7 separate regions of the Homo sapiens genome follow, and all the other regions are linked to region 1. Evidence: fine-mapped expression QTL. A gene starts in region 1. Each other region holds a variant in brackets. All regions are shown on one strand. Distances are between the middles of the regions.

The links.
Region 2: its variant is fine-mapped to the expression of TOP1MT in whole blood (TOPMed, PIP above 0.99). The same link has a PIP of 0.9 or more in lung, sun-exposed skin and unexposed skin.
Region 3: its variant is fine-mapped to the expression of TOP1MT in whole blood (GTEx, PIP above 0.99). The same link has a PIP of 0.9 or more in unexposed skin.
Region 4: its variant is fine-mapped to the expression of TOP1MT in whole blood (INTERVAL, PIP above 0.99).
Region 5: its variant is fine-mapped to the expression of TOP1MT in subcutaneous fat (GTEx, PIP above 0.99). The same link has a PIP of 0.9 or more in lung and sun-exposed skin.
Region 6: its variant is fine-mapped to the expression of TOP1MT in cerebellum (GTEx, PIP above 0.99). The same link has a PIP of 0.9 or more in cerebellar hemisphere.
Region 7: its variant is fine-mapped to the expression of TOP1MT in whole blood (INTERVAL, PIP above 0.99).

What each region holds. Positions count from the first base shown.
Region 1 is chr8:143,333,236-143,337,299 of GRCh38, forward strand. It overlaps TOP1MT (DNA topoisomerase I mitochondrial), which reads right to left and starts at 1,645. Exons shown (of 14, transcript NM_052963.3): 1 at 1,505-1,645. The coding sequence starts at 1,626. RefSeq lists enhancers at 869-1,553, 1,093-1,142 and a silencer at 1,343-1,802.
Region 2 is chr8:143,312,829-143,316,892 of GRCh38, forward strand. It overlaps TOP1MT (DNA topoisomerase I mitochondrial), which reads right to left. Exons shown (of 14, transcript NM_052963.3): 11 at 3,171-3,298; 12 at 2,899-2,993. Among named protein-coding and RNA genes, the nearest start is that of TOP1MT, 20 kb to the right of the region's middle. The variant G/A (reference allele first, on the strand shown) is at 1,635.
Region 3 is chr8:143,360,476-143,364,539 of GRCh38, forward strand. It overlaps a transcript of RHPN1 not described here. Among named protein-coding and RNA genes, the nearest start is that of RHPN1-AS1, 6.1 kb to the right of the region's middle. The variant C/A (reference allele first, on the strand shown) is at 2,251.
Region 4 is chr8:143,676,373-143,680,436 of GRCh38, forward strand. No RefSeq gene overlaps it. Among named protein-coding and RNA genes, the nearest start is that of ZNF707, 6.1 kb to the right of the region's middle. The variant T/C (reference allele first, on the strand shown) is at 2,125.
Region 5 is chr8:143,287,356-143,291,419 of GRCh38, forward strand. ZNF696 (zinc finger protein 696) reads left to right here and starts at 4,062. Exons shown (of 3, transcript NM_030895.3): 1 at 4,062-4,064. RefSeq lists an enhancer at 3,551-4,064 and a silencer at 3,597-4,064. The variant G/A (reference allele first, on the strand shown) is at 2,463.
Region 6 is chr8:143,293,861-143,297,919 of GRCh38, forward strand. It overlaps ZNF696 (zinc finger protein 696), which reads left to right. Exons shown (of 3, transcript NM_030895.3): 3 at 1,880-4,059. The coding sequence ends at 2,940. Among named protein-coding and RNA genes, the nearest start is that of ZNF696, 4.5 kb to the left of the region's middle. The variant C/G (reference allele first, on the strand shown) is at 2,154.
Region 7 is chr8:143,612,726-143,616,778 of GRCh38, forward strand. GFUS (GDP-L-fucose synthase) reads right to left here. Exons shown (of 11, transcript NM_003313.4): 2 at 3,842-3,998; 3 at 3,381-3,495; 4 at 2,062-2,190; 5 at 1,899-1,972; 6 at 1,595-1,728; 7 at 1,439-1,503; 8 at 1,026-1,092; 9 at 799-878; 10 at 471-570; 11 at 1-240. The coding sequence starts at 3,987. The coding sequence ends at 185. Among named protein-coding and RNA genes, the nearest start is that of GFUS, 2.8 kb to the right of the region's middle. The variant C/T (reference allele first, on the strand shown) is at 1,578.

The sequences.
Region 1 (4,064 bases):
CAGGAGTTCGAGACCCGCCTGGCCAACATGGCAAAACCCCCGTCTCTACTAAAAATACAAAAATTAGCTAGGCGTGGTGGCGGGTGCCTGTAATCCCAGCTACTCAAGGAGGCTGAAGCAGGAGAATCACTTGAACCCAGGAGGCAGAGGTTGCAGTGAGTTGAAATTGCACCACTGCACTCCAGCCTGGGTGACAGGGCAAGATTTTGTCTCAAATAATAATAATAAAAATAAAAATAAAGAACTGACAGTGACCCTGACTGCCAAGTCCTTCACAAAGCCTCTAGGGTAGTCACATCACCAGTCTCATTTCACAGATGAAGACACTGAGGTGAAACAACCTGCCGGCCAGCGGCCAGGCAGGGCTGCACCACTGGGTGTGCGCTCAAGCCCAACTGAGGGCTGCACATTGTAGTGACATTCTTTCACCCCTGCAGAGACCAGGGCACCAAGCACCACCATCAGACACAAGCTGGCTTTCAAAGCCAGAGACCTTGCTCCAAACCCACCTGTCCACCTGGGCGACTGCAGCTCAGCAGCACTTTTTGGAAAGCACCTACCTGCCTGTGCACCCTCGGAGAGATGTGCCTCAATGCAGGGCCCACAGCCAGCCCCAGCTCCAAGCGCAGGCCAGAACTCCCTCCTCCCAAGACACCCTGCCCCATCTGGGGCTCTCTTTGGGTCCCAAGCTCCTGCAGGCAGACAGGACATTTCTGCAGCATGGCCTTAGGCAGCTGTGCAGGCCCTCAGCTGTGAATGGGTATGCTGATAGCGCACCACCAGGTCACAGAGACATGCCACGCTGGAAGCACTAAGTGAATGATGATAAACCGCGAGACCTGGCGGGAACTCCTGCAGGATCTCCCACGCACCAGTGAGGCTGTCAACTCTCCAGCTCTTCGGAAACTCCAGCATTTCATGCGCAGAGACCCATCCCCATGCGGCTACCCCAGGCCCAGTATGCGCCGGCAGGGCTTCTCACATGTCCTCCAGGAAAGCGCCTGGGACCACCAACGGCCACCAGGGCCACTGGATCCATGCGGCTTGTGCCTGGTGATGTAGATATGACAGTGAGCGCCCGCCGCCATGCAGAATCGGTCCTGGAGACAACCCGGGAACCGACTCCAGGAAAGAGCGGGTCTCAGAAGACCATGCACAGCAACATAAGCTTTTTATAAAGTACCTAACCAAACCCTACAGTGTTGAGGCCCAGGCACAGCTACACAAATGATGAAACCACAAGCGGAAAAAAAGAGGGGAGATTTCCCCAAATAGGGTTGGTGGGGTGGTGCCTGGGGAAGCAAGGGCGACGTCATGGGGGGGCCTGTACACCCCGGGCAGGAGGCGGGCCGGTCACACCGCGGCACGCATGCTCTCCTGGCCCGACTTTTGGGAAAACCGGAAGCAGGGCAAGGCCGTCCCACGAGGCCTGCCACTCCCCTTTCTGGACCTACCCAAGCCCGGTGCTCAGGGCCCTCGCCGCCTGCTCACTGGGACACCTTACCTGGCTCCACTGCCCTTCTGCGTCCTGCGCGAGCCCGGGACACCCCGGGAGGCCGGGCGGCGGGGGACCTCCCCGAGCAGCGTCAGAGCCGCCCGGAGCCGCAGCAGCCGCACCACGCGCATCTGCCAGCCTCCGGGAAAGAGCGACAAGCTGGGCCCCGCCCCAGCGGCCAGCCCCGCCCCGCCCCCAGCGGCCAGCCCCGCCCCCGAGCGCGGCCTCCGCCCCCAGCGGCGCTCATCCCAAGGCTGGGCGGTCTAAGCCTGCACGGGGCTGCGGCAGCAGGACCACTGACTGTCCTGCCGGCCTCCCCCTGGTTTCCCTGCCTTCGTGGTCCAGCGCCCCTTCACGCTGGGCGGGGACCCAGATCCAAACCCAGTCCCACTGACCTCTGCAGCACAGGGCTGGCTGTCAGGATGCCCCACAGGTCACACGACCAGGCCAGTGAACTCCTGCCCAGGGCTTGCACACAGCTCTCTCCCAGAGCCTCTGAGGGCAGGGGCACCTAGCAGGTCCTTCCTAAGTACACGCTCTGCTGCTCTGGAGAAGGGACCACACAGGCTCAGATGGCCCCCTACCTCATCCCCTACAAACAGCAGCACTTCCAGGACGCAGAAACCGGCAGAAGCACCTGCTGTCCAGCCCACAGCAGCCCCTCAGAGGTGGTGCCTCTGGACAAAGGTCACAGGAAGTCCTGCGAAATCATCCCTGCCAACCAGCCTCTCACTCCCAAGGAGACCAGAGACCAGGCACAGCTGGAGCCTCCTTCCTGCGCTCAGTCCCCAGCGTGACTGCTGACCCTGACCAGGGTTTAACCCCAGTGTCTTCACTGGGGAGCATGGCCAAGGGGCAAAACCTCTAGATCAGCACTTGGCGGTAGGCCCTGAGCCACAACAGGCCACACCGCTCACCTCTGGCAGCACCGCAGCCTTGGTCTTCCCCGGTAAAACCCTGACACCAGGACCGTGGGAAGCAGATGAATTCACATGCATTCCGCACTTTCACTGTGACCGTTGGGGGGAATGCAGTGGACACAGGCAGGAAAGGAGTCCGGGCTGCCACCGCACGCCCTCAGCGACCCTCCCCTGCCACCAACTGACTCAGTGTCCATGTCATCTAGCTGCTGGAAGCCATGGGCAGAGGCCGAGGGCTGCAATTGCTCGCTCTTAGGGCCCAGGCAGACCTGGTAGGTGTCCCATCATTTCAGAATGAGCAGCTCAGCAGCTGAAGGTACACACACACCAGGACACAGCAGCTGACTCTCCAGGTGGGCCACCTCCTCCCAGGGGCTGCGGAACAGTGATGCATATTTTTTCAGGTAACCCTTTCTACAAACCAGAAGAGGGCCTTGGCCCAGGCCCACCATTCCTTCAACGGAATCCTGAGGTCAATGTGTTTTCCAGTTCAGGTTTCTAAGGGTTTTTGATTTTTTGTTTTTTACTTTTTGTAGAGATGGGGTCTCCCTATGTTGCCCCGGCTGGTCTCGAACTCCTGGGCTCAAGTACCTTGGCCTCCCAAAGTGCTGGGATTTCAGGTGTGAGCCGATGCCCAGTTGGTTCCTCAGGTTTTGTAAGAGGGAGTGTGGCAGGACAAAAACCCTAAGATTTCTCAATAGATGCAGAAAAAGCAGCAGACAAATCCAGCACCATTTCATGATAAACAGAATGGAAAACCCACTCAAGAACAGAATAGAAAGAAACTTAACCTGAAAAGCAGCATCTACAAAACCCCGCAGCTAACCTCATATGCCAGAAGAAAGACTGGACGCTCCTGCTGAAATGAAGAATAAGACGAGGATGTCCACTCTCACCACTGCCTCTCAACATGGTACCAGAGGCTCTAACTGAGCAAACAGGCAAGCAGATGAAATAAGACACCCAGATCAGAAAGAAAGAAGTAAATTATGTCTATTTGCAGGTGGCATAATCTTGTATATAGAAAATCCCAAAGAATCCACAAAAATTGGCCGAGCACCGTAGCTCATGCCTGTAATCCAAGCACTTTGGGAGGTCAAAGCAAGTGGATCACTTGAGCCAAGGAGTTCAAGACCAGCCTGGGCAACATAGTGAGACCCTATCTCTATGGAAAATAAAATTTAAAAAAGAATCCACAAAAACTAGTAGAGCTAATAGATGAATTCAGCACAATTGTAGGGTACAAGATCAATATGCAAACATCAGTTGTATTTCTAACCAGTAGCCATACGCAAACTGAAAATGAAATTAAGAAAATAATTTATTATAGCATGAAAAAATAAAATACTGCACAATAAATTTAACAAAGGAAGTATCAAGCTTATACTCTGAAAACTGTAAAACATTGCCCAAAGAAATTAAAGACAGCCTAAATAAATGAGCAGCCATCCCATGTTCACGGACTGGATGATTTCATATGGTTAAGACAGCATTGGCCAGGTGCAGTGGCTCACGCCTGTAATCCCAGCACTTTGGGAGGCCGAGACGGGCGGATCACGAGGTCAGATCGAGACCATCCTGGCTAAAACGTCTCTACTAAAAAAATTAGCCTGGCATGATAGCAGGCGCCTGTAGTCCCAGCTATTTGG
Region 2 (4,064 bases), 20 kb before region 1:
CTTTTAATCTCAGAGCTCTGGGAGGCCAAGGCAGGATTGCTTAAAGCCAGGAGTTCAAGAGTAGCTTGGGCAACATACAAAAATTTTCTTAGTGTAAAAATTAGCCAGTTGTGGCCGTTGGCACCTGTGGTCCCAGCTACTCAGGAGGCTGAGGCGGGAGGATTGCTTGAGCCCAGCAAGTTGAGACTATGGTGAGCTAGGATGCTGAGACATCTGGCTGTCCACATGCAAGAGAATGACCCTGGGCCCTTCCCTCAGACCACACACAAAAATTAACTCAGAACCAATGACCTAAATGTAAGAGTAAACCAATAAACCTCTTAGGAGAAAACAGAGAAATCTATCTTCATGGCCTTGGGTTAGGCAAAGCCTTCTCAGCACGCTGACTCATCCAAATCTTAAATGTGTCACAGGACACCAACAAGAAAGAAGAAAGATGTGGCCGGGCGCAGTTGCTCACACCTGTAATCCCAGCACTTTGGGAGGCCGAGGTGGGTGGATCACCCGAGGTCAGGAGTTCAAGACCAGCCTGACCGACATGGTGAAACCCCATCTGTACTAAAATACAAAAATTAGCCAGGTATAGTGGTGTGTGTCTGTAGTCTCAGCTACTCGGGAGGCTGAGGCAGGAGAATCGCTTGAACCCAGGAGGCAGAGGTTGCAGTAAGCCAAGATCACGCCACTGCACTCTAGCCTGGGTGACAGAGCAAGACTCCATCACCAAAAAAAAAAAAAAAAAATAGGGCTGGGAGTAGTGACTCACACCTGTAATCCCAGCACTTTGGGAGGCCGAGACAGGCAGATTGCCTGAGCTCAGGAGTTCAAGACCAGCCTGGGCAACATGGTGAAACCCCGTCTCTACTAAAATACAAAAAAATTAGCCGGGCATGGTGGCGGGTGCCTGTAATCCCAGCTACTCAGGAGGCTGAGGCAGGAGAATTGCTTGAAACCTGGAGGCAGAGATTGCAGTGAGCCGAGATCATGCCATTGCACTCCAGCCTTGGCGACAGAGCAATGCTCTGTCTCCAAAGGAAAAAAAAAAAAAAGAAAGAACAAAGACAACCCAAGAGTGGGCGAAACATCGACGAGCTCTTACAAGTCAATAATAAAACAACAACCCGACTGGAAAATGGACAGAGGACCTGAGCAGTCATTCTCCAGAGACGATACAGAAGTGGGCAACAAGCACCTGCAAAGAGCACCCACGGCCAGACGCTCCTTCACACCCACTGGGCTCTAATCGACACATGGAAAACTGACCCTACAGTGGCGCCTGGACAGAGGAATCGGAGCCCTCACACACTGCTGGTGGGGAGGGGATGGTGCCGCCGCCCTGGAGAAGAGTCTGGCACCTTCTTCTCATTTCCTGACCCCACAATGACAATCACAAACCTCCTTGGCGGCCAGGGTCTCCTCCTCCCACGGCTCCATGTGTCCCACTCTTGTCCACAAGGCATATAGTTTGTATTTTTAAAAATCACAAAGTTGGCCAGGTGCAGTGGCTCATGCCTGTAATCCCAGCACTTTGAGATGCCAAGGCAGGAGGATCACTTGAGGCCAGGAGTTTGACCAGCCTGGCCAACATGGAGAAACCCCGTTTCTACTAAATAAATAAATGAGCCGGGCGTGGTGGC[G/A]CGCACCTGTAACCCCAGCTACTCGGGAGGCTGAGGCAGGAGAATCACTTGAACCCGGGAGGCGGAGGTTGCAGTGAGCTGAGACCGCGCCAGCGCACTCCAGCCTGGCGACAGAGACTCCATCTCAAAAAAAAAAAAAAAAAAATCACAAAATAACAATTGAAGAGGAAAACAAAACTGGCCATGGGAAGGCGCGTCTGAAGCTGCCACATCTGGGTTGGTGTGGGCGGCAGCTACCTAGGTGCTGAGGCAAGAGACTGAGGGCACGAGCTGTTCCAGTATAATAAAATACATAAGAATAGTTATACTATATATAGATCATAGATATGATTATATATGAATATCATTAATCATTAGTTGGTAGCAATTACTCTTTTTTCCAATATTATAATAATCCTCGCTCTACAATCATAGCCTAGGAAAAACCAGGCCATACAGAGATATGAGGGGACATAGTGAGGAGTAACCAGAAGACAAGAGTGCGAGCCTTCTGTTATGCCCAGACAGGGCCACCAGAGGGCTCCTTGGTCTAGCGGTAACGCCAGCGTCTGGGAAGATGCCTATTGCCAGGCCAACCATGGTCTAGCGGTAGCATCAGTGTCAAGGAAAAACACCTGCCACTTAGCAGACCGGGAAAGGGAGTCTCCCTTTCCCCAGGGGAGTTTAGAGAAGACTCTACTCCTCCACCTCTTGTGGAGGGCCTGACATCAGTCAGGCTCGCCCGCAGTTATCCGGAGGCCTAACCGTCTCCCTGTGATGCTGTGCTTCAGTGGTCATGCTCCTAGTCTGCCTTCATGTTCCATCCTGTACACCTGGCTCTGCCTTCTAGATAGCAGTAGAAAATTAGTGAAAGTACTAAAAGTCTCTGATATGCAGAAATAATGGCGTAAACTGTTCTCTCTCTCTCTGCCTCGGCTGCCAAACAGGGAAGGGCCCCGTGTCCAGTGGACATGTGACCCACGTGATCTCACCTATCACTGGAGATGACTCACACTCTTTACCCTGCCCCTTTTGCTTTGTATACAATAAATAACAGCGCAGCCAGACATTCGGGGCCACTACCAGTCTCCGCGTCTTGGTGGTAGTGGTCCCCCGGGCCCAGCTGTCCTTTCTTTTATCTCTTTGTCTTGTGTCTTTATTTCTACAATCTCTCGTCTCCGCACAAGGAGACAACAAGGGTCGTCTCCCACCGACCCTGTGGGGCTGGACCCTACGGGTTGGGACAGGGCCCCGGGAGAAGGCGTCTGAGGGCACGGGTACTCACCTCCTGGACTTGCCATCCCCTTGGGCTTTGTGCTCAGCCCTCGCCCTCCTCAGCTCTGCCCTGGCCTCAGCCACCTGCTCCTTCTTTGCCTGGATCTGCAGGAAAAGGGTCCAGACAGGGCTGCCCCTCCCCATCCCGCACCAGCCCCTGTGCCCACACCCTTCCACACCCTACGTGCCCACCGCAGCTGGCTCCCAGGCCTGTGCCGAGGCTCTGGGGAGGGGGAGGGGTCCCTTGAGGGCTGGGCTGGGGGCTCTCCTGGGAGCTGCTACCTTCGTCTGGAGATTCTGCATCGACTTCTCGAACGTACTGGGGGTTGCTCGCTGATGGTTGCAGAGAATGGCCACGACTCGGTTGGCTCGGTTGTAGGATAAGATCTTAGCTGCTATGCTGTCCTCGGCTGAGAGGCACGGGCTGTCAGAGGCAGCACCCACGGGGCCGGCCACCCTCCCTGTCTGCCCTGAGCCGGCCTTAACGCGCCACACAGCGCAGCCCCTTCCACTCACACAGGCACCCACTGGGATGGGGAGAGTGAGGGCCAAGGGTCAGTGACCCTCCAAGGTGGCCTCGAGAGCAGGGCCCAGCGTCTTTAACCACAGCAACAAGGCTTCACGTGGGGCCACAGCACAGGTAGCACCACCCGGGCCTTCCCAGGCCCCATGGCAAGGAGGAGGCCCAGCCGCCTGGACGGGCGAGTCTGCCTGTCACAAGTCCCCAGCACCCGGCTTCCCCTGGCGAGTCTGTGGGTCCCTGCCTGTCACAAGTCCCCAGCACCCGGCTTCCCCTGGCGAGTCTGTGGGTCCCTGCCTGTCACAAGTCCCCAGCACCCGGCTTCCCCTGGCGAGTCTGTGGGTCCCTGCCTGTCACAAGTCCCCAGCACCTGGCTTCCCCTGGCGAGTCTGTGGGTCCCTGCCTGTCACAAGTCCCCAGCACCCGGCTTCCCCTGGCGACATCCCCTCAAGGTACCACGTTGTCTCCATTTTCCAGTCAAGAATGAGGTTCAGAGAACGTAAGCACTGGCCCCAAGGCACCTACTGGAGCGGCCACTCCTTCACGCCCATCCTGCATGGCCCACCCAGCTCTGGAAGCACGTCCACAGTGGGCCCAGCACCTTCATTTCCTCTCCCAGGCCCGGCCTCGGCCCCTATGCCCTCACCCAGAATCTT
Region 3 (4,064 bases), 27 kb after region 1:
CGGGGTCCGTGAGTCTGGGGTGACGTGAGATCCCAGAGGCTGAGTCTGGAAAATTGAGCGGATGTGGCCGCGGTAGCAGAATGGACGAAGGCCTCCAGGCCGAGAGGGAGCTCTGTGTACAAGGGCACGGCAAGTGGCCACCGGTGGCCAGTGTGGAGTACGGCTCCCTCCAAAGCAGGCTCTTCCTGCAGGTATTTTATCCGGGAGGTGGACTCAGGAAGCACAGGTAAGGGAGTAGGGAAGTACACGTGTTGGGGAGCAGGTGAGAGCCGGGGCCCCTGGACTAGTCCTCCTGGAGGCCTCTGGGAGAGCACAGGACACAGTTCCGAGTGGGTTTGCTCTGGTTTTGAGGGGCCATCCTTGCCGCCCCACCTCTGCCAACTGCACTTCCAGCAAGCCCCGGGCATAGGCCAGCACCCCTAAGCACTGAGAAAAGCGCTCAGGCAGGAAGTTGCAGGTGCTGGGGGCGGGGGGGCGTTGGGGTGCATGGGAAAGGCAGGGTGCTGAGAGCGTCAGCCGCACTGCATGTGTGTGCGTGGTGGGGCTGGGGAAGGGCTGGCGCGTGTTGACACGATGGTGCGGGCACCGGGGAGCACCACCCCCACATGATCCCCTGTATGTTGCAGAGAGATGATGGCACCAGTGGGCACACTGCTCGCAGGTCAGGAGGAAACAGGGCTTGGTCAGGCCAGAGACAGTAGGAGCCTAAACCGCAGGCCTGCAGAGGTTGAGGGGAGGTGTCTGATAATTAGTAGGGTGTGGAAATGAGAATGAGCGAGTTGAGGATGGTGCCCAGGCTTCTAGTTTGGGTGGTCCGGTGAGTGGCGCTGTCTTCTGGCCCTAAAGCCCTGTCACGGTAAGGAGAACTGCCTGGAAAACGTACACTTGGGGAAGACAGAAGAGGTTATTACAAACACTCCTTCACTTTACAACTTGGCTATTTTGTGATAAGTTTTAGTGCATTTATTTGAGTTTATTAAAGATGCCATGTTACTGCCTTCTTAACAAATGGACATAGGCAGATAGCTGTTTTCCTGTTGTGGTGAGTAATGGCCAGGAGAGGCAGCCTTCTGTGGAGCAGGCACCGCAGAACCTTTGCATGCAGATGGCATCTCCTCTACAATGGCGCCGGGGTTGCTAGAGCCACAGACGCTGAGCTTATTTTACTCAGAAAGCCACAGAAACAATAACCAAAAAAGGATACTATGAAGGCAGCATAGATCATATGCTTTTTAAAAAGCCCATCGTCAGCATCAGTGACAACACCATTACCGCTCAGTCACCGAGATTAAAAATTAGTCACACGTGGAAAATAGAAACAGGTTTTCAGGGAGAAGAAGGTTTTGATTCCACTGAATAATGCTCCCTCTTTTGCTTGGTAAATAGATGATCCATATTTCCTGATGATGTACATTTTCGAGGGTAGCTATGCCTAGGTGGTCTCAGATTTGGGGAAAAAGCCTTGGCCTCAGTTGACTGGGAAGGGCTCAAAAACTATAAATTGTATCCAAAAATGTCTGACAACAAGGTATTCAGTAATGACATCAGAGACTCCATCCAGACTGAATCTAGATTAGGTCACAAATGATTAACAGTCCTTGGAATTAAGAACTTTTATCTTGGCCGGGTGTGGTGGCTCATGCCTGTAATCCCGGCACTTTGGGAGACGGAGGCAGGCGGATCACTAGAGGCCAGGAGTTTGAGACCAGCCTGGGCAACATGGTGAGACCCTGTCTCTACTAAAAATACAAAAATTAGCCAGGTGTGGTGGCGCGTGCCTATGATCCCAGCTACTCGGGAGGCTGAGGCGGGAGAATCTCTTGAGCCCAGGAGACGGAGGTTGCTATGAGCCAAGATCGCAACACTGCACTCCAGTCTGGACGACAAAGCAAGACTCCGTCTCTTTTTTTTTTTTTTTTTTTTTTTTTTTGAGACGGAGTCTCATTCTGTCACCAGGCTGGAGTGCAGTGGCGCGATCTCGGCTCACTACAATCTCTGCCTCCCGGGTTACATACCACCACACCCAGCTAATTTTTTGTATTTCAGTAGAGACGCAGTTTCACCACGTTGGCCAGGATGGTCTCGATCTCCTGATCTCGTGATCTGCCCGCCTCAGCCTCCCAAAGTGCTGGGATTACAGGCGTGAGCCATGATGCCCGGCCGCAAGACTCCGTCTCAAAATTAAATAAAATATTTTTAAAAAAGAACGTTTTTCTTGTGTGCATCACAATACTTCAGCGAGACACAATC[C/A]TCATCTGAGCCACCACGGGGCTGGCCCTTGCCCCTCTCCTTCCCTTTAAGCCCTGGTCCAGCCCAGCCTTCGGTCTTCTGAGCCTCCATGTACCTCGGCTGGGCCCCGGCCCCTGTCCTCAGCCCGTCCTGCCCGCTTCCCCTCCCTGGCCACTCTGGGCAGAGGCCTTGCTTCCTGTGTCACTGACACCTGGGGACAATCCACAGAGGTACCCCACACTCCCAACACGGCATCTGTCCCGCCTGTGCCCCCCACCCACCAAACCTCTGCTCCCCTCCATCTTCTCTCCTGTTACCGTGGTTGAACACTTCACGCCCCCTATTAAGTGCCAGCCACCCATCAGCCCTCCCCTGGCCCCACAAACAGTACTGCACCTGTCCTCAGAATTCAAATGTGCCCACTCCCTATGGCCGTCTCTGCTCTTCTGACTCACCTTAATCCCCGTTGAAGCACTCTCATTCTTTGGCTGGGTGCAGTGGCTCATGCCTGTAATCTCAACACTTTCATGAGGCTGGCGGATCACTTGAGCCCAGGAGTTCGAGACCAGCCTAGGCAATATGGGGAGACCCTGTCTCTACAAAAAATACAAAAATGAGCCAGGCATGGTTTCTCATGCCTGTAATCCCAGCTGCTTGGGAGGCTGAGGCAGGAGGATTGTTTGAGCCCAGGAGTTCAAGACTGCAGTGAGCTGTGATCACACCACTGCACTCCAGCCTGGGCAACAGAATGAGACAGCCTGTCTCAAAAAGAAAAGGTCTCACTCTCAAAGCCCCCTGAGACCACTTCCAACAGGGTCTCCACCAGCCTCCTCCACTCTTGGCAGCCTGGTCTTGCTGTCAATGGCGCAGGATGGCGCATGTGTTGGTCACTGGCTTCCCTTGGAACTGGTTCCTCCCTGAGCTCCTGGGGGCCACCTGACCCTGTTTCTGTTGCCCTCCTCCTTGGGCCCACTGTCGTGAACTATCCTGGCACTCTGTCCCCAGCAACTGTATAGCAAAGACGTCTACAGTGTGGACCTTGGCCTCCAGCCTGGCCCCTGAGCTGGAGACTCGGCAGCCTTCAGGACCCTTCCCCTGAGCTGTGTGAGAGAAGCTCCAGCCCAGCATCCCAAACCCAAGGCTCTGCCTGCCGAAACCTCCTCCTCCCAAACCGTCCCCGTATGGTGGTCACACCAGCCATCTCTGAGCTGCCAAGGCCAAAACAGTGTCGGAGTCCTCTACACCTCTTCCTCCCACCGCCCCGTGGAACCCACCGGCAACCCTCACACACGTTCCAGTATCACTGCTCTATGGCGGTGGGCTCTGCACCAGGCTGGACCACAGAAGGCCATGGTCGCTTCAGTTGTATAAAACACGCCACAGGTGCATCCAGCTGCTGGGATCAGTGCCAGTAAGTGCCCACTGCAGAAACCCAGTGTGCTGTGCCCGGGGCACCCTCACCAAGGCACTGTCCTAAGAATGAAACTGGCAACCAGAGGAAAGTCCACAGCAGGCCACTCTGCCACATTCCAAGGACAATCATGTGTTCCCCTTCCCCATATCCTTTTCTTTTTATTTGCCAGAAAAGTGCAGTTCTCCAGAAGCCAGCAGGCCAACCATGGGCGTCTCCCTCCCTCCCTCCCTAAGCACACTCAGCACCCAGGAGGGACATGAGCACCCACAGCCTGGGAAGGTCCCTCAGCGGCCGGGAGGGACATAAGCACACACAGCCCGGGAAGGTCCCAGAGCAGGCTGGGTGCTCCTTGCTTACGGAGGCCCCACCAGGGCCTGGCAGGGCACCCAGAAGATGAGGGCTTTAAAGAGCTCTCTTTGTC
Region 4 (4,064 bases), 340 kb after region 1:
TTTAACCTAGACTGTGGGGCCCTGGCTAAGGGCAGTGGCCTATCTCTCTAAACAACTATAGGGGGTTTCCAAAGCCTGGCCCCCGTGTCTAAGGGCCCCGGCAGCAACGGCCCTGTTAGCACAAGAAGCAGATAAACTAACTCTTGGACAAAACCTGAATATAAAGGCCCCCCATGCTGTGGTAACTTTGATGAATCCCAAAGGACATCATTGGCTAACAAATGCTAGATTAACCAAGTACCAAAGCTTGCTGTGTGAAAATCCCCACATAACCACTGCAGTTTGCAACACCCTAAACCCCAGCACCTTGCTCCCGGTATCGGGGAGCCCAGTTGAACATAACTGTGTAGAGGTGTTGGACTCAGTTTATTCTAGCAGGCGCAACCTCCGAGACCATCCTTGAACATCAGTAGACTGTGAGCAGTACGTGGATAGCAGCAGCTTCGCCAACCCCTGCAAAGTGACTCTGAGGAAGACGACAAGCCCTGCTCCAGTCACGCCCAGAAGCTGACTGGTCCATGCACGGCCGAAGCATGAGGAAACTCATCGCAGGACTCGTTTTCCTTAAAATTTGGACTTGTACAGTAAGGACTTCAACTCACCCTCCTCAGACTGAGGACTGTTCCTAGTGTATACATCAAGTCACTGAGGGAGGACAAAATGTTGCTACAGTCCCATTATTTTACGGTTATTATAAGTGTACTGGAACTCTAAAAAGAACTTGTTTGTATAATGTTATTCTATACAAGGTATGTGCCCAGGAAATGACCAACCTGATGTGTGTTATGACCCATCTGAGCCTCCCATGACCACAGTTTTTCAAATAAGATTAAGAATTAAAGACTGGTGGGGGCTCATAAACAATATGAGTAAAGTGTTAGCCAAAAAAAACAAACAAAAAGAGGTGCCCAAACAAGTCACCTTGAAGTGTGATGCCTGTGCTGTCATTAATACTAATAAGTTAGGAATAGGATGTGGTTCTCTTCATTAGGAAAGAGGCTGTATGGCAGAAAATAAGTACATTTATCATGAGTTAGGACTGTGTGGAAATGAATGTAGTTACTGGTCTTGTGTCATTTAGGCTACTTGGATAAAAAATGAAAAAAATTCTGTCCACCTTCAGAAAAGGAAAAGTGGCCCTTCCTATACCAGTGGTCAGTGTAACCCCTTAGAACTAGTAATAACCAACCCCCTTAATCCTCGCTGGAAAAAAAGGAAATGTGTAACCCTAGAATTTTTTTTTTTTTTTGAGATGGAGTCTCGGTCTGTCACCCAGGCTGGAGTGCAGTGGAGCGATCTCGGCTCACTGCGAGCTCTGCCTCCCGGGTTCACGCCATTCTCCTGCCTCAGCCTCCTGAGTAGCTGGGACTACAGGTGCCCGCCACCACACCCGGCTAATTTTTTGTATTTTTAGTAGAGATGGGGTTTCACCGTGTTAGCCAGGATGGTCTCGATCTCCTGACCTCGTGATCCGCCCGCCTCTGCCTCCCAAAGTGCTGGGATTACAGGCGTGAGCTACCGTGCCCGGCCATAACCCTAGAAATTCATGGGGCTGGACTGGATCTTCAAGTAAATATTGTGGTTTGAGGAGAAGTTTATAAACGCTCTCCTGAGCCAGTATTTCAAACCTTCTATGATGAACTGAATGTGCCAGCACCAGAAATTCCAGGAAAAATAAGAAATTTGTTTGCAATTAGCTGACCATGTAGCCCAGTCTCTCAATGTCACTTCATGCTATGTGTGTGGAGGAACTATAATAAAAGACCAATGGCCACGGGAAGCCCAAGAATTAGTACCTACAGACCCAGTTCCTGACGAATTCCTGGCTCAGAAAAATCACCCTGATAACTTCCGGGTCCTAAAAGCCTCAATCACTAGACAATACTGTATAGCAAGAGTAAGGGGCCGGGCGCGGTGGCTCACGCCTGTAATCCCAGCACTTTGGGAGGCCGAGGCGGGCGGATCACAAGGTCAGGAGATGGAGACCATCCTGGCTAACACGGTGAAACCCCGTCTCTACTAAAAATATAAAAAATTAGCCAGGCGTGGTGGCGGGCGCCTGTAGTCCCAGCTGCTCGGGAGGCTGAGGCAGGAGAATGGCGTGAACCCGGGAGGCAGAGCTTG[T/C]AGTGAGCTGAGATCACGCCACTGCACTCCAGCCTGGGTGACAGAGCAAGACTCCGTCTCAAAAAAAAAAAAAAAAAAAAAAGAGTAAGGAAGGACTTCACCCTTCCTGTAGGACGACTCAGCTGCCTTAGGCAAAAACTGTATAATGGTACTACAAAAACAGCCACCTAGTGGAGTTCAAACCATACTAAGAAAAATCCATTTAGTAAATTCCCAAAGTTGCAAACCGTGTGGACCCATCCGGAGTCCCACCGAGACTGGACAGCCCCCACTGGATTATACTGAATGTGTGGGCATAGGCCTTACACCAAATTACCCGACCAGTGGGCAGGCAGTTGTGTGATTGGCACTATTAAACCATCTTTCTTCCTACTGCCTATAAAGACAGGTGAACTCCTGGGCTTCCCTATGTTTCCCGCGAAAAGAGAAGCATAGCTATAAAAAAATAAGAAAGATAATAAATGGCCCCCTGAGAGAATGATGGAATATTATAGGCCTGCTACTTGGGCACAAGATGGCTTGTGGGGATACCGGACCCCCATCTACATGCTCAACCAAATCATACGGTTACAAGCTGTCTTAGAAATAATCACTAATAGGACCGGCAGAGCCTTGACTATTCTGGCCCGGCAAGAAACTCAGATGAGAAATGCTATCTATCAAAATAAATTGACTCTCGACTACTTGCTAGCAGCTGAAGGAGAAGTCTGTGGGAAATTGAACCTTACCAATTGCTGCCTGCACATACATGATCGGGGCAAGTAGTTGAAGATACAGTTAAAGACATGACGAAACTGGCACATGTGCCTGTACAAGCGTGGCACGGATTTGATCCTGAGGCCATGTTTGAAAATGGTTCCCAGCGCTAAGAGGATTTAAAACTCTTATAATAAAAATTACAGTAGTAATAAGAACCTGCTTACTGATCCGTTGTTTACTACCTGTACTCCTTCAAATGGTAAAAGGTTTCATCACTACTCTAGTTCACCAGAATGCTTCAGCACAGCCGAGCGCGGTGGCTCACGCCTGTAATCCCAGCTTTTTGGGAGGCTGAGGCAGGCGGATCATGAGGTCAGGAGATCGAGACCATCCTGGCTAACGCGGTGAAACCCCGTCTCTACTAAAAATACAAAAAAAAAAAATTAGCTGGGCATGGTGGCGGGCGCCTGTAGTCCCAGGTACTCAGGAGGCTGAGGCAGGAGAATGGCGTGAACCCGGGAGGCGGAGCTTGCAGTGAGCCGAGATCGCGCCCCTGCACTCCAGCCTGGGCGACAGAGCAAGACTCCGTCTCAAAAAAAAAAAAAAAAAAAAAAAAAAAAAGAATGCTTCAGCACAAGTGTACTTCATGAATCACTATCGCTCTGTCATGCAGGAAGACATAGCTAGTGAGGAAGAAGGTGAGAACTCCCACTAATAAAATGAGTGAGAGTCTCAAAGAGGGGGAATAAGGGAGGAGACTGCCCCTCATATCCTCTTATGCCCAATTTCTGCCTCCAAAGAAAGAAGAAGTAAAAGCTAAAAGGCAGAAATGAAATCTACAGGTAGACAGCCCGGCGCCGCACCCTGGGCCTGGTAGTTAAAGACTGACCCCTGACCTAACCGGTTGTGTTACCTATAGATTCCAGACATTGTAAAAATCCCTGTCCCGTTCTGTTCCGTTCTGATTACCAGTGCATGCAGCCCCCAGTCACGTACCCCCTGCTTGCTCAATTGATCACGACCCTCTCACGCGGACCCCCTTAGAGTTGTGAGCTCTTAAAAGGGACAGGAATTGCTCACTCAGGGAGCTCGGCTCTTGAGACAGGAGTCTTGCCAATGCTCTCGGCCAAATAAACTCCTTCCTTCTTTGACTTGGTGTCTGAGAGTTTTGTCTGCATCTTGTCCTGCTACAAGCTCACGGCAACCTCTGCCTCCTGGGTTCAAGCAATTCTTCTGCCTCA
Region 5 (4,064 bases), 46 kb before region 1:
AAGAAAAAGACACAAAGTATAGAGAAAGTAATAAGGGGACCCAGGGAACCAGCGTTCAGCATATGGAGGATCCTGCCAGCCTCTGAGTTCCCTTAGTATTTATTGATCATTCGTGGGTGTTTCTCCGAGAGGGGGATGTGTCAGGGTCACAAGACAATAGTGGGGAGAGGGTCAGCAGACAAACACGTGAACAAAGGTCTTTGCATCATAGACAAGGTAAAGAATCAAGTGCTGTGCTTTTAGATATGCATACACATAAACATCTCAATGCTTTACAAAGCAGTATTGCTGCCCGCATGTCCCACCTCCAGCCCTAAGGCGGTTTTTCCCTATCTCAGTAGATGGAACGTACAATCGGGTTTTATACCGAGACATTCCATTGCCCAGGGACGGGCAGGAGACAGATGCCTTCCTCTTGTCTCAACTGCAAGAGGCATTCCTTCCTCTTTTACTAATCCTCCTCAGCACAGACCCTTTACGGGTGTCAGGCTGGGGGACGGTCAGGTCTTTCCCTTCCCACGAGGCCATATTTCAGACTGTCACATGGGGAGAAACCCTGGACAATACCTGGTTTTCCTAGGCAGAGGACCCGGCGGCCTTCCGCAGTATTTGTGTCCCTGGGTACTTGAGGTTAGGGAGTGGTGATGACTCTTAAGGAGCATGCTGCCTTCAAGCATCTGTTTAACAAAGCACATCCTGCACAGCCCTTAATCCATTTCACCCTGAGTTGACACAGCACATGTTTCAGAGAGCACGGGGTTGGGGGTAAGGTCATAGATTAACAGAATCTCAAGGCAGAAGAATTTTTCTTAGTACAGAACAAAATGGTGTCTCCTATGTCTACTTCTTTCTACACAGACACAGTAACAATCTGATCTCTCTTGCTTTTCCCCACAGGTCTCACTCTGTCACCCAAGCTGGAGTGCAATGGCGTGATCTCAGCTCACTGCAATCTCCACCTCCCGGGCTCAAGTGATTCTCCTGCCTCAGCCTCCCGAGTACCTGGGATTACAGGCGAACACCACCACTCCCGGCTAATTTTTGTAGTTTTAGTAGAGATGGAATTTCACCGTGTTGGCCAGGCTGGTCTCAAACCCCTGACCTCAGGTGATCCACCCGCCTCGGCCTCCCAACGTGCTGGGATGACAGGAGTGAGCCACTGCGCCAGGCCCAGCTGTCTTTGTTTTTCAGGGGTGCCTTTGGTAATTTCTTCATCGTACTTTTTTTTTTCAGGGTAGCAGGTAAGAGACTCAGTGGATAGGCTCATGGAAACAGTCCTTGAAGGGGTGGTATTCTAAGACTCAGCTACTTTTTTTTTTTTTTTTTTTTTTTTTTTTTTTTTGAGACGGAGTCTCACTGTGGAGTGCAGTGGCGAAATCTTACTGCAACCTCCGCCTCCTGGATTCAAGCAATTCTCCTGCCCCAGCCTCCCGAGTAGCTGGGACTAAGGCAAGCACCAACATGCCTGGCTAATTTTTTGTAATTTTTTTTTTGGTGGAGATGGGGTTTCACTATGTTGGCCAGGCTGGTCTCGAACTCCTGACCTCGAGTGATCCTCCTGTCTTGGCCTCCCAGAGTGCTGGGATTACAGGCGTGAGCCACCTCTCCGGCCTGGACTCGGCTACTTTTGGATCAAGAAATCCAGAATTTTCTAGACTGTGAACTTGCCCTTTATCATGGACATTTACCACCTGCAACTGCCCAGAGGTTCTCTGTCTCACCCTACACCGTGAGGACCCCCTTAGCAAACAGAATTCCAGGGCGCGGGCTCTTCGCAGGATCTGAGCTATTCGCGGGCGTCCTGAGTTGCTTGGATTCACTCCCCCACCCCCATGTCCCTGGAGTCCTGCCTTGTGTTTTCGATTCTGTTTCTCAGGGGCCCCAGCGTGTGGCCTCCCATTGTGGGAGAGCAGGAGGGAAGCGGTGAGGGGTGATTTCGGAGGAGGCAGAGCCCCGGGTGTCCGTGGGAAGCTCCAAAGCCGGGCCGCGGGACGGCTACCCTGGGCTGTGACGCAGTCCAGGATCTTCGCCAAGGCACCTGCTGGAGGCCCCTCCTGGGTCCCACGACCCCGACTGCGCCTGCCGGCTGCCAGCGAGGAGGCGGGGCCAAGGCGAGGGCGGGGCCGAGGCAGGAGGGGCGGGGTCGGCCTGATGGGCGGGGCTTCCGTGTGGGCGGGGCTGCTGGCCCTGCGGTCTGAGCCAGCGGGGAGAGGCCCGGGCGGAGGAGGCTGCGGACTCCTAGAGGTTCAGTGCCGGAAGTTGGGCCTGGAAAGGGGGCACCGCCTTCCCGGTTCTGGTGGCGGGGAGTGAGGGGACGGGCGAAAGCGGCACAGGGAACAGCATGACACGGGCCTGAGGCAGGGCACATTTGGAAAGGGGCGAGGAGAGGGCAGTGGCTTCTGGCACGGCAGCAGTGGGCATACAGAGGCAGTCGGGACCCGTCTGGAAGAGCCTCCGCCCGG[G/A]GTAAGGAGCCGGGACTGTGTCTAGGAGGCAGTGGGGAGCTCCGGAGAGCGAAGCGCCTCCTGCGCAGACTCGCGTGCTTGGAGTACCGGAGCCTGCAGGGCAAGAGAGGGTCTTCAGAAGACCCACGACGTTCCACTGGGATGCAGAGGGAAACGGTTACTTGTACTTCTACATCATCTCTTTTAGATGTGTGTGTGTGTGGTGTGTGTTGTTGTTGTTGTTTTTGTTTTGCGACAGAATCTCTGTCACCCAGGCTGGAGTGCAGTGCCAATCTCGGCTCACTGCAGCCTCCGCCTCCCGAGCTCAAGTGGTCCCCCCGCCTCAGCCTCCCGAGTAGCTGGTACCACAGGCGCCGGCCACCACGCCCGGCTAATTTTTAAAAAAAATTTTTAGTCGACACGGTTCTAACTATGTTGCTCAGGCTGGTCTGAAACTCCTGGACTCAAACAATCCTCCTGCCTTGGCCTCCCAAAGTGCTGGGATTACATTCATGAGCCTCTCGCCCACCCAGTCTAAGTGTTTTAATTTTTATCTTTTACAACAGCTTCTAATTTGTTACAAATAAACGTGCAGCATGTGGTGGGAGTGTTCAGGTGTTTACTGGTGCAGTGCGCAATGAACGCGGTTCCAGGCACGAGATGTGGAGGCCCAGAGGCAGATGCCGGGTGGCGGCGGCGCGGGACTGTCGGAGGCGCGGGCAGGGACCTGGGCTCCCAAGGCTGTGGCCCTCCCGCCCCAGTCCAGGGTCCAGTTCCAGGGGCGCGTCTGGCCCTCTGTTGCTGTCTTCTTAGGGTTCTCTCATGGGAATCGGTTCTTCAGCCTTTCTTTTCTCCCCAGAGAGGGTCTGTCTACTCGTTGTAAGAGGGAACAAGTCCACATTGCAGCTGTACACTTTGCACCCATGATGAAAAGCGTCACTTTTGCAGCATTCCAGCTGGAGATGCGTGACCTTCGGTCTGCGGCAGGCGGAAGGGCGAGAGACTTGGACAGGAGGTGCATCTTGCCCGGGGAAGGCTGAACGAATGAGAGCTCGGTCCCTGGTGAGAAAGAGCCCAGAGCCCGCGAGAGGCGGGCAGCAAGGGCTTCTCTGCAGCGGAGACGCGAGGGCGGCGTCCTGCAGGGAGGCGGGGGGCAGCGCCTGGGGCGCTCCAAGCTCTCGGCCCCAAGGAAGCCCACGCTCGGGACCCGCGTGCTGCCACAGCCCCGGGGGCCTGGAGGGTCCCGTGAGCCGAGCGGGACCCGGGACAAGCGCGGGACGCCGCGGGGAACGGACGGGAACGCGCGTGGCCGCCCCACAGCGGGCCTTCGACACCTCCTGACACGTCCTGCGGGTGCCCGGTCCTCAGTTGGCTCGAGCCGGATCCCGGCGCGCCAACGGCTCGACCTTGCCCCCCACGAGGCAGGGCTTCCTGCCCGGCAGGAAGGACTCGGCCGGCGCCTGCGGGCAACCGATGAGCTGAAGGCGCCGCGGCTGGGCCGTCCCGCTCTCCCGCCGCCGAGCGCGCTGTCCTCCCGCTGCCCAGAGCGTCGCCGGAAGTGCCGAGGGGGCGGGCCAGGGGTGGAGACTGGCGTTTCCGGCGCGCGACGGGGCGGGGACCGTA
Region 6 (4,059 bases), 39 kb before region 1:
GTCTGCAAGGGCAGAGAGAGGTGGGGACTGTCGATAGCAGCCTGCTCTCATCTGCCCTGGAACATCCCTGCCCCACCCCCACCTCCACAGGAGCTTCCGTCTTATCTGCGCCCTCCACATTCTTGAGAGGTGCAGCTGGGACTCAGCCGCTTCTCCTCTGCTGCCACAGCGGACTGCCTGCAGACTGAGAAGTCCTCCTCAGTTGCTGTGCTGGCCTCGTTGGCCCCCCTCCTCCTGCTGCCCCTCCTGGCTGAGTCCTCCTGCCTCCTATGCAGGCCAAGCTCAGTTGCCAGCTTTCTCATGTCCCAGGGTTTCACCCCTACCCCTTAAGCCTTTTTTCTAAATGGCCACATGGTCTGTCCCTGTGAGCCAGTGGAACCAAATCTAACCAGTGGCTTGACTGCCAGACAAGGGCCATTGATAACGCAGCCTGGATGGGGTTGCTCAGCCTGACCAGCGCCGCCGCCGCCCAGCCCACATGGGACGTGGGTTGCTGCTTCCAGCTCTTGTTCCGGATTTCTTTTCTTTTCTTTTTTTTTTTTTTAAGACAAAGTCTTGCTCTGTCGCCAGGCTGGAGTGCAGTGGCGCCAGCTCACTGCAATCTCCACCTCCTGGATTCAAGTGATTCTTCTGCCTCAGCCTCTCAAGTAGCTGGGACTACAGGTGTGCACCACCACACCCAGCTAATTTTTGTATTTTTATTAGAGATAGGGTTTCACCTAATCTTGATCTCTTGACCTCGTGAACTGCCCACCTCAGCCTCCCAAAGTGCTGGGATTACAGGCGTGAGCCACCGCGACTGGCCTCTTGGTCCGGATTTCTGTCTGAGTGAGGACGCTCCTGTTTGCACATAACAGAAGCCCTTAGAGTTTGGTGTTTGGGGGCAGTTGTTAAGGAGTCTGCGTTGTCTCAGGGAGTCCAAGGTAAAAGGAATGAGCTGGGGCCATGGCTGGGTGTGGTGGCTCACACCTGTAATCCCAGCACTTTAGGAGGCTCAGGTGGGAGGAGGGTTGAGCCCAGGAGTTCAAGACCAGCCTGGGCAACACATTGACACACTGTCTCTACAAAAAATTTTTAAAATAGCCTGGTGTGGTGGTGCTCACCTGGAGGTGCGCCACCTACTTGGGAGGCGGAGGGAGGATCACTTGAGCCCTGAGGCTGCAGTGAGCCATGATGGTACCACTGCACTCCAGCCTGGGTGATAGAGCAAGACCCTGGCTCACAAGAAAGGAAGGAAGGACAGACAGAAGGCAGAGCTGGGCCGTGGGCTCTGTTGGGTGCCACTGTCCCCGGGCCTCCTGCTACATCTGCCTCGCTCCCGTCCTGGCTTGCTGCCAGCTGTCTCCAGCCTCCTTTGCTTTCCCAGCTGTCCCGCAGAGTAAGGCAGTGCCCAGAGCCTGCGTTTCTGTCCCCTCCCCTCCCAGGACTGGGTGGGCCGAGGCTAGAGGTTTAGCCCTGTTTCTAGCCCCGTTTAGCCTCGTTTCTGTTTGTATATTTTTAAAATTCTATTTTTTTAAGAGACAGGATCTCACTATGTTGGCCAGGCTGGTCTTGAACTCCAAGTCTCAAGTGGTCCTCCTGCCTCAGCCTCTGAAAGTGCGGAGATACAGGTGTGAGTCACCACATCCGGCCCCACAGCCCCGTTTCTGGAGTGGCAGTGCAGGATTCTCGTCTACCTCATAACCATGGGGGTTAAGAAGGTGGGGAGGAGAAAAAAACTAAAAAAAACGAGGCGGGAACTGAATGGGCAAAATCAAAGGTGTCTGTGGCACACTGACGTCACCATCACTGTCACTCTGTCGTCACCACGATTGCCAGAGCCACCCTCGACTCACGTTCTCTTACATCTAAAATCGTTCCTGTCTGGCCTCTTTTTCAGCTGTGAAGGCTGCTTTCCTGGCGCAGGCCCCGAGTGGCAGCCGGTCAGCCGAGGTGCAGGCAGCTCAGAGCACGGAGCCTGCCGCAGAGGCAGGCGCTCCCGAGGGAGAGGGCCACAGAGGGGGGCCTCCCCGGGCGTTGGGGTCTCTTGGCCTTTGTGAAAACCAGGAAGCCAGAGAGAGGCCCGGAGGTTCCCCTCGAGGCCCGGTCACTTCTGAGAAAACTGGAGGACAGAGTGGCCTCGAGTCAGACGTCCCTCCGAACGCAGGCCCCGG[C/G]GCAGAGGGCGGGGGCAGCTGGAAGGGGCGGCCTTTCCCGTGCGGCGCCTGTGGCCGCAGCTTCAAGTGCTCCTCGGACGCGGCAAAGCACCGGAGCATCCACTCGGGGGAGAAACCGTACGAGTGCAGCGACTGCGGGAAGGCCTTCATCCACAGCTCGCACGTGGTCCGGCACCAGCGGGCGCACAGCGGGGAGAGGCCCTACGCGTGCGCCGAGTGCGGCAAGGCCTTCGGCCAGAGCTTCAACCTCCTCCGGCACCAGCGCGTGCACACGGGCGAGAAGCCCTACGCGTGCGCCGACTGCGGCAAGGCCTTCGGCCAGAGGTCGGACGCCGCCAAGCACCGCCGCACCCACACCGGGGAGAGGCTGTACGCGTGCGGCGAGTGCGGGAAGCGCTTCCTGCACAGCTCGAACGTGGTCCGGCACCGGCGGACCCACCACGGGGAGAACCCGTACGAGTGCCGGGAGTGCGGCCAGGCCTTCAGCCAGAGCTCCAACCTCCTCCAGCACCAGCGCGTGCACACGGGGGAGCGGCCCTTCGCCTGCCAGGACTGCGGCCGCGCCTTCAGCCGCAGCTCCTTCCTCCGCGAGCACCGCCGCATCCACACCGGGGAGAAGCCCCACCAGTGCGGCCACTGCGGGCGCGCGTTCCGGGCGCTGTCGGGCTTCTTCCGGCACCAGCGACTCCACACGGGCGAGAAGCCGTTCCGCTGCACCGAGTGCGGCCGCGCCTTCCGCCTGAGCTTCCACCTCATCCAGCACCGGCGGGTGCATGGCGCCGAGTGAGCCGGGGCTGCGGCGGAAGAGATGCCGGCGGCCTGGTGGGCGCGAGGCCGAGGCCGGGGGAGGCTCCTGTCCGCCCCGTGCGCGGTGAGGAAGTAACAGCCGGCTGCGCGCCTGGTTCTCGGGTTGCGAAAGCCTCGCCAGGCCTGCATCCGCCTTGGCTTGGGAGCAATCAGGAGAGACAGGGCTCGGGGAAGGCGAGCGCTGCCCGCGGGAGGCGATTCCCAGAGGCGGGGAGGTCTCAGGGGTCTGTCCCGGGCCGGCCGCCCGCCTCTGAGACTCCCCGCCTCCCACGGTCAGCTGCTGCGGGGCAGTGGCCGGTGATTGAATCGGTCATTCCTCCGCAACCAGGCCTCCATCAAAACCCTGCATGAGATGAGGGCCTCGGGCTTCGGGTTGGTGAAGGCGGGGTGGGGGGGCAGTTAGGAAGGGGGCGCCCAGACAGGGCATGGAAGCCTCGCGTCCTCCCCCGTACCTTGCGGGTCGGTGGTTCATCCATGTATTTCAACGCCTTTTCACAGCCGGTTCATATGGTCCCGACTTCTGTGTGCTTAGAAAATTATGGAACTTGGCCGGGTGCGGTGGCTCCCGCCTGTAATCCTAGCACTTTGGGAGGCCGAGGCGGGCGGATCACACGGTCAAGAGATCAAGACCATCCTGGCCAACATGGCAAAACCCCCATCTCGACTAAAAATACAAAAAATTAATTGGGCGTGGTGGCGTGCGCCTGTAATCTCAGCTACTTGGGAGCCTGGGGCAGGAGAATCACTTGAACCTGGGAGGCGGAGGTTGCAGTGAGCGGAGATCTGGGCACTGTACTTTAGCCTGGGCGACAGAGAGACCCATCTCAAAAAAAAAATTGGAACCTGAGAAGGGGGTCGTGGGGTCCCCGGGGCCCACCGTCTGCACTTGGCATCTGAAGTCGGGGTGGTCTTGTGGGACTGACCCCTTACCCTGTGGGTTCTGCACTAGCTCCGGGCAATTGGTGACAGAATCGAGTTAAATTGTAGGACATCGCGTTGGTGTCTGAGAGGGAGTTGGAGAGCTGGTTGGTGTGGAGGGAAAGGCTTACACACATGTGATTTCAGAAGCGTTCTGTGGGTAGAGGAATCGTTTTCTCTT
Region 7 (4,053 bases), 280 kb after region 1:
CTGGTTTCCCTGAGGACCAACGTGAATGGGGGCCCCACTGGAAAGATGCTTGGGGCTGCAGAGCGGATGGAATGCAGGCCCAGGTTGCTGGGTGGTGCCCTCAGCTCCTGGCAGGGTTGACGGGTGGTGGCCGCTGGGCTCTGCCAGCCGATGGTCCGCTGGCACCTGATCCTGTCTTCCAGCTTCACTTCCGGGCCTGCTCGTAGTTGTCAGTGAACCAAGCACAGGTCTCCTTCACCGCTGCAGAGGCAGGCAGGTGAGGGCCATGGACAGGGAGGGTCGGGGCCGCATGGGAGGAAGTGGGGGGAGGAGGCCCAGGGACAGGGAAGTCACCCCTCAGAGCTTTGGTGTCCCACCTCCAGGGCAGTACAGGCTCTGAGGGGGCACCTCACCTCTGCCCTGGTAGCGAGCATGAGGGAGGGGCTGGGGCAGGCCTCCACCAAGTGGAGGGCTGTGGGGTCAGGGCTCACCCTGCTTGAAGGGTGTGAACCGGAAGTCGGGCAGGTAGGTCCTCAGCTTGCTGTTACTGGCTGTCTTCTTAAACTGCCCATCCGACTTGGTTGTATCAAACTGGAGGCTTTGTCAAGGCCACAGCGAGAAGAGCACCTCCACCCCAGCCCCCGCAGCTTGCCCTTGAACCTCTGCCATTCCCAGGGGAGCCACAGCAGAGCTCCTCCGCCTGCCAGGGTGAGCATCCTCCCTCCGCAGTGTCCCACCCACGCTGGCCCTACACCGGGTGGCCACTGAGCCCGCCCAAGGGGCCCCCGCCCAACCCCCAGCACTGGAGCCAGAGGATACGGTGACTTCCCCATGGAAGTCCATGGCCTCCACCACCGCCTCGGCTGCCTCCTTGATGGAGACCTCATCTTCCTCGCCCACTGTGGGGAGCCACCGGGTCAGGCCTCCCCTTGGTGCCACCCGACGGCCCATGAATATTCCTGCTCCCACCCCTCAGCCAGCCTCCCAGGACAACCTTGGATCCTGTCCTACCATGGAGGAAGGGGGCTGAGGGCTGAGGTACCCACCGGAGAGGATGATGGGCTCCACTTCATTGTACTCCCGCAGGACCCAGATAAAGAGCTGGGCCAGGTCCTAGAGGTCAGACAGGCAGGGTCAGAGACCATGGGTATAGCCAACCCTCTCCCAAACGCCCCTGCTGGGGAGTCCATACTGCTGTCCTTGTTCAGTGGGGGCTCAGCCTGGGGAACAGGGGTCCCTCCTTTCTCCCTTGGAGCTCAGAGCTACGCCAGTGACTCCTGGAGACAGGAGCCTATGGGGCCTCCACGAGGACCAGAGATGGCTCCTCTTGGAGCTCAGCCCAGATTCTCTGCTGGTAGGAGCCTCCCTCCTGCACCACCTCCCCGACAGCCCAGCAGGGGCCAGCCCAGGGCTCAATAGGGCAGGTTCTCTGGGGAGAGCTGTGCCTTCCTTTACGCACCAGCGAGTATATGAACTGCCTCCGCGGATTCCCTGTACCCCACACCGTCAGGGCCGAGCCGCTGCCTGCAGATTTGGGGAAGGAGCAGGTGTCAGAGGCACTGGGTCACCTCCTCCCGAGCTGAGCCCGGGCACCCCAT[C/T]GGACGGACGCACTCACTCTTGGCCAGGTGCACCTTGTGGATGAGGCCAGGCAGCACGTGGCCATCCTCGATGTTGAAGTTGTCGTGGGGCCCGAAGACGTTGGTGGGGATGACAGCGGTGAAGGTGCAGCCGTACTGCTGGAAGTAGGCCCTGCGGAGGCACAGCGTCTCCTGCCCTCGTCCTGGGCCCGCGATCCCACCCCAGGCTGCCGCTGGCCTCTTACTGAGGCTGGCACGAAGACCCGACCAGCCGGCCCCACCCGCCCCTGGGGGCCCTCTCCCCGACTCCTGGCTGGGCCTCAGCAGGATGGGCGCGAGGACCTGTTCTGCACGTCGATCATCCTCTTGGCATACGAGTACCCAAAATTGCTGTTGTGGGGAGGCCCATTGTGGATCTGCGGGCGTGGGAGAGGCAGAGGCCGCTACTTCCTGGCCCTGCCCACCGGCTCCCCGGCCCCACCCACAGCCAGGCCCTGCCCCTCACCATGGTCTCATCTATCGGGTAGGTCGTCTTGTCAGGGAAGATACAGGTGGACAGGCAGGACACCACCTTGCGGGCGCCCACCTCAAAGGCCGAGTGCAGGACGTTGTCGTTCATGTGCACGTTTTTCCTCTGCAGGGGTGAGGCGGGGACAGTTCAGGCTCCCCAGGCCAGATCCCAGCCCTTACCTGCTCCTCCAGACGCAGAAGTGGAGACACACCCTGGCCCTTCAGCCCTGGGAGGACCCAAGCCTGCCCATCCTAACCGTTTCCGGACAAGGCAGTGGGCTTACAGACACCATTGCTCTCCAGCCCCACCAAGGCTGGAGGAGGGGCTGGCTCTGCCTTCCACTATGAGGAGAACCACACCCCCAGCTCAGGGCTGGGCCCCACCCAGGAGGCTGCTGAGGTCAGGGCATAGGACCCCACTGGAGGCTGGGAAGGAGCCCAGTCTGGCCCTGGGCTGGGCTGGGGCTCCCACTACACGGGGAACAGGGCGGTCTACTTCCCCACCCTGGAGGAGCTCCCACCTGGCTCTACTTCCCAGGATCAATGGAGCCTGCGCTTGCCGGGTCCACCCCGCGGGCCCCACTTCCCGTGCATGAACTAGACACGGCATGGCTGGAGCCCTGGGACTGGTCTTGGGAGAAGGGAGAGGTGGTGGCCAGGCAGCCTGCTGGGAAGGCCGAGACACCGACAAAGAGGGCTCTGGGGTGACAGGGCTCCTGGGCAGAATCTCCTCTGAGCCTCTGCTCACGCTAGTGCCTCCTACGCTTAGCAAAGCCAGCTAAGGCAAGGCTGCTGCCCAGTGACTGGTGGGGCCAACCCTCCGGAACACAGCTAGCCACGGCAGGGCCCTTACACCACGCCCCCTTCCCCCAGACACAGGCAGCAGATGCACAGAGCGCGGTTCACACCCCTGCACCCCAGAGTGTGTGGTGGGCCCGGCTAAGGGGAGCTGGGCCAGCACAGTCCTGGGAGCCAGAGGCTCCAGAGGCCCTGGGGACTCAGGGGGCAGGAACCAGCTCCCAGTCCCACGTGGCCGCTGGCTCTTTTCAGCCTCCCAATGCTGCAAGTCAGCTCCACAGCTTTGCCTACTGGGCCAAGTGCCTCCAGGCCCCCTGCATGGCCCTCTGTCCACAGCACCAAGTGTGAGTGACTGGGGGTCCCTCAGGGGCTGCCCCCACCAGGCTGTGCCAAGCCCTGATCCTCAGGGACTTCCTGGGGTGGGAATGTGGGCCTGTGAGAGTGGGAAGCCCGCCAGGAAGTTCCCAGAACCTGGGATCCTGGTTTCCAGTGCTTGCTGGGGCCACCCTCACTTACCCAGAAGTCCAAATTGTATTTGATATTCCGGAACAGGCCCCCCACCATTGCAGCAAGATGGATGACGTGTGTGGGTTGGACCTTCTCAAACAGGGCGCGGGTCTGTGCTGTATCCCTGTAGGAAGCCAGGCTGTCAGGAGGCTCTGGAGGGAACCAGCACCCCAGGGTTGGGTGCCAAGTGCAGGAACTGGGTGGGACTATGGCAGGAGGGACAGTCAAAAGGGAGGGTGGCCCCAGGGCCTGGCTGATATGAGGGTGCAGGCTTCCAGGAAGAGATGGGAGGGTGTTTGTTTTTCCAGGAACACAGCCAAGCACACCCAGGCCAGGCCAGCCACCTGGCAGGAAGGACCCAGAAACACAGCTACTGTTAGACTCAGCAACATGCCCAGCCTGGAACTCTTAGTTCTAGGGTGGGGGGTAGGATGGAGAGGAAGGGCTGATCTGGGGATGGGCTCACTCACGTGAGATCGGCGTCTTTAGAGGAGACAAACACCCAGTCCTCTCCAGGAAGTCCAGCTCCATCTGCTACCACCTTCTGGATGGCTTTGCCTACCAGCCCAGAGCCCCCTGTCACTAGAATCCGCATGGATCCCTGGGGTTCACCCATGTCAGTTGCACCTGTAATGTCAAACAGTGGGAGGCTGAGGTCATCACGCTCTCATCCTTTGGAGCC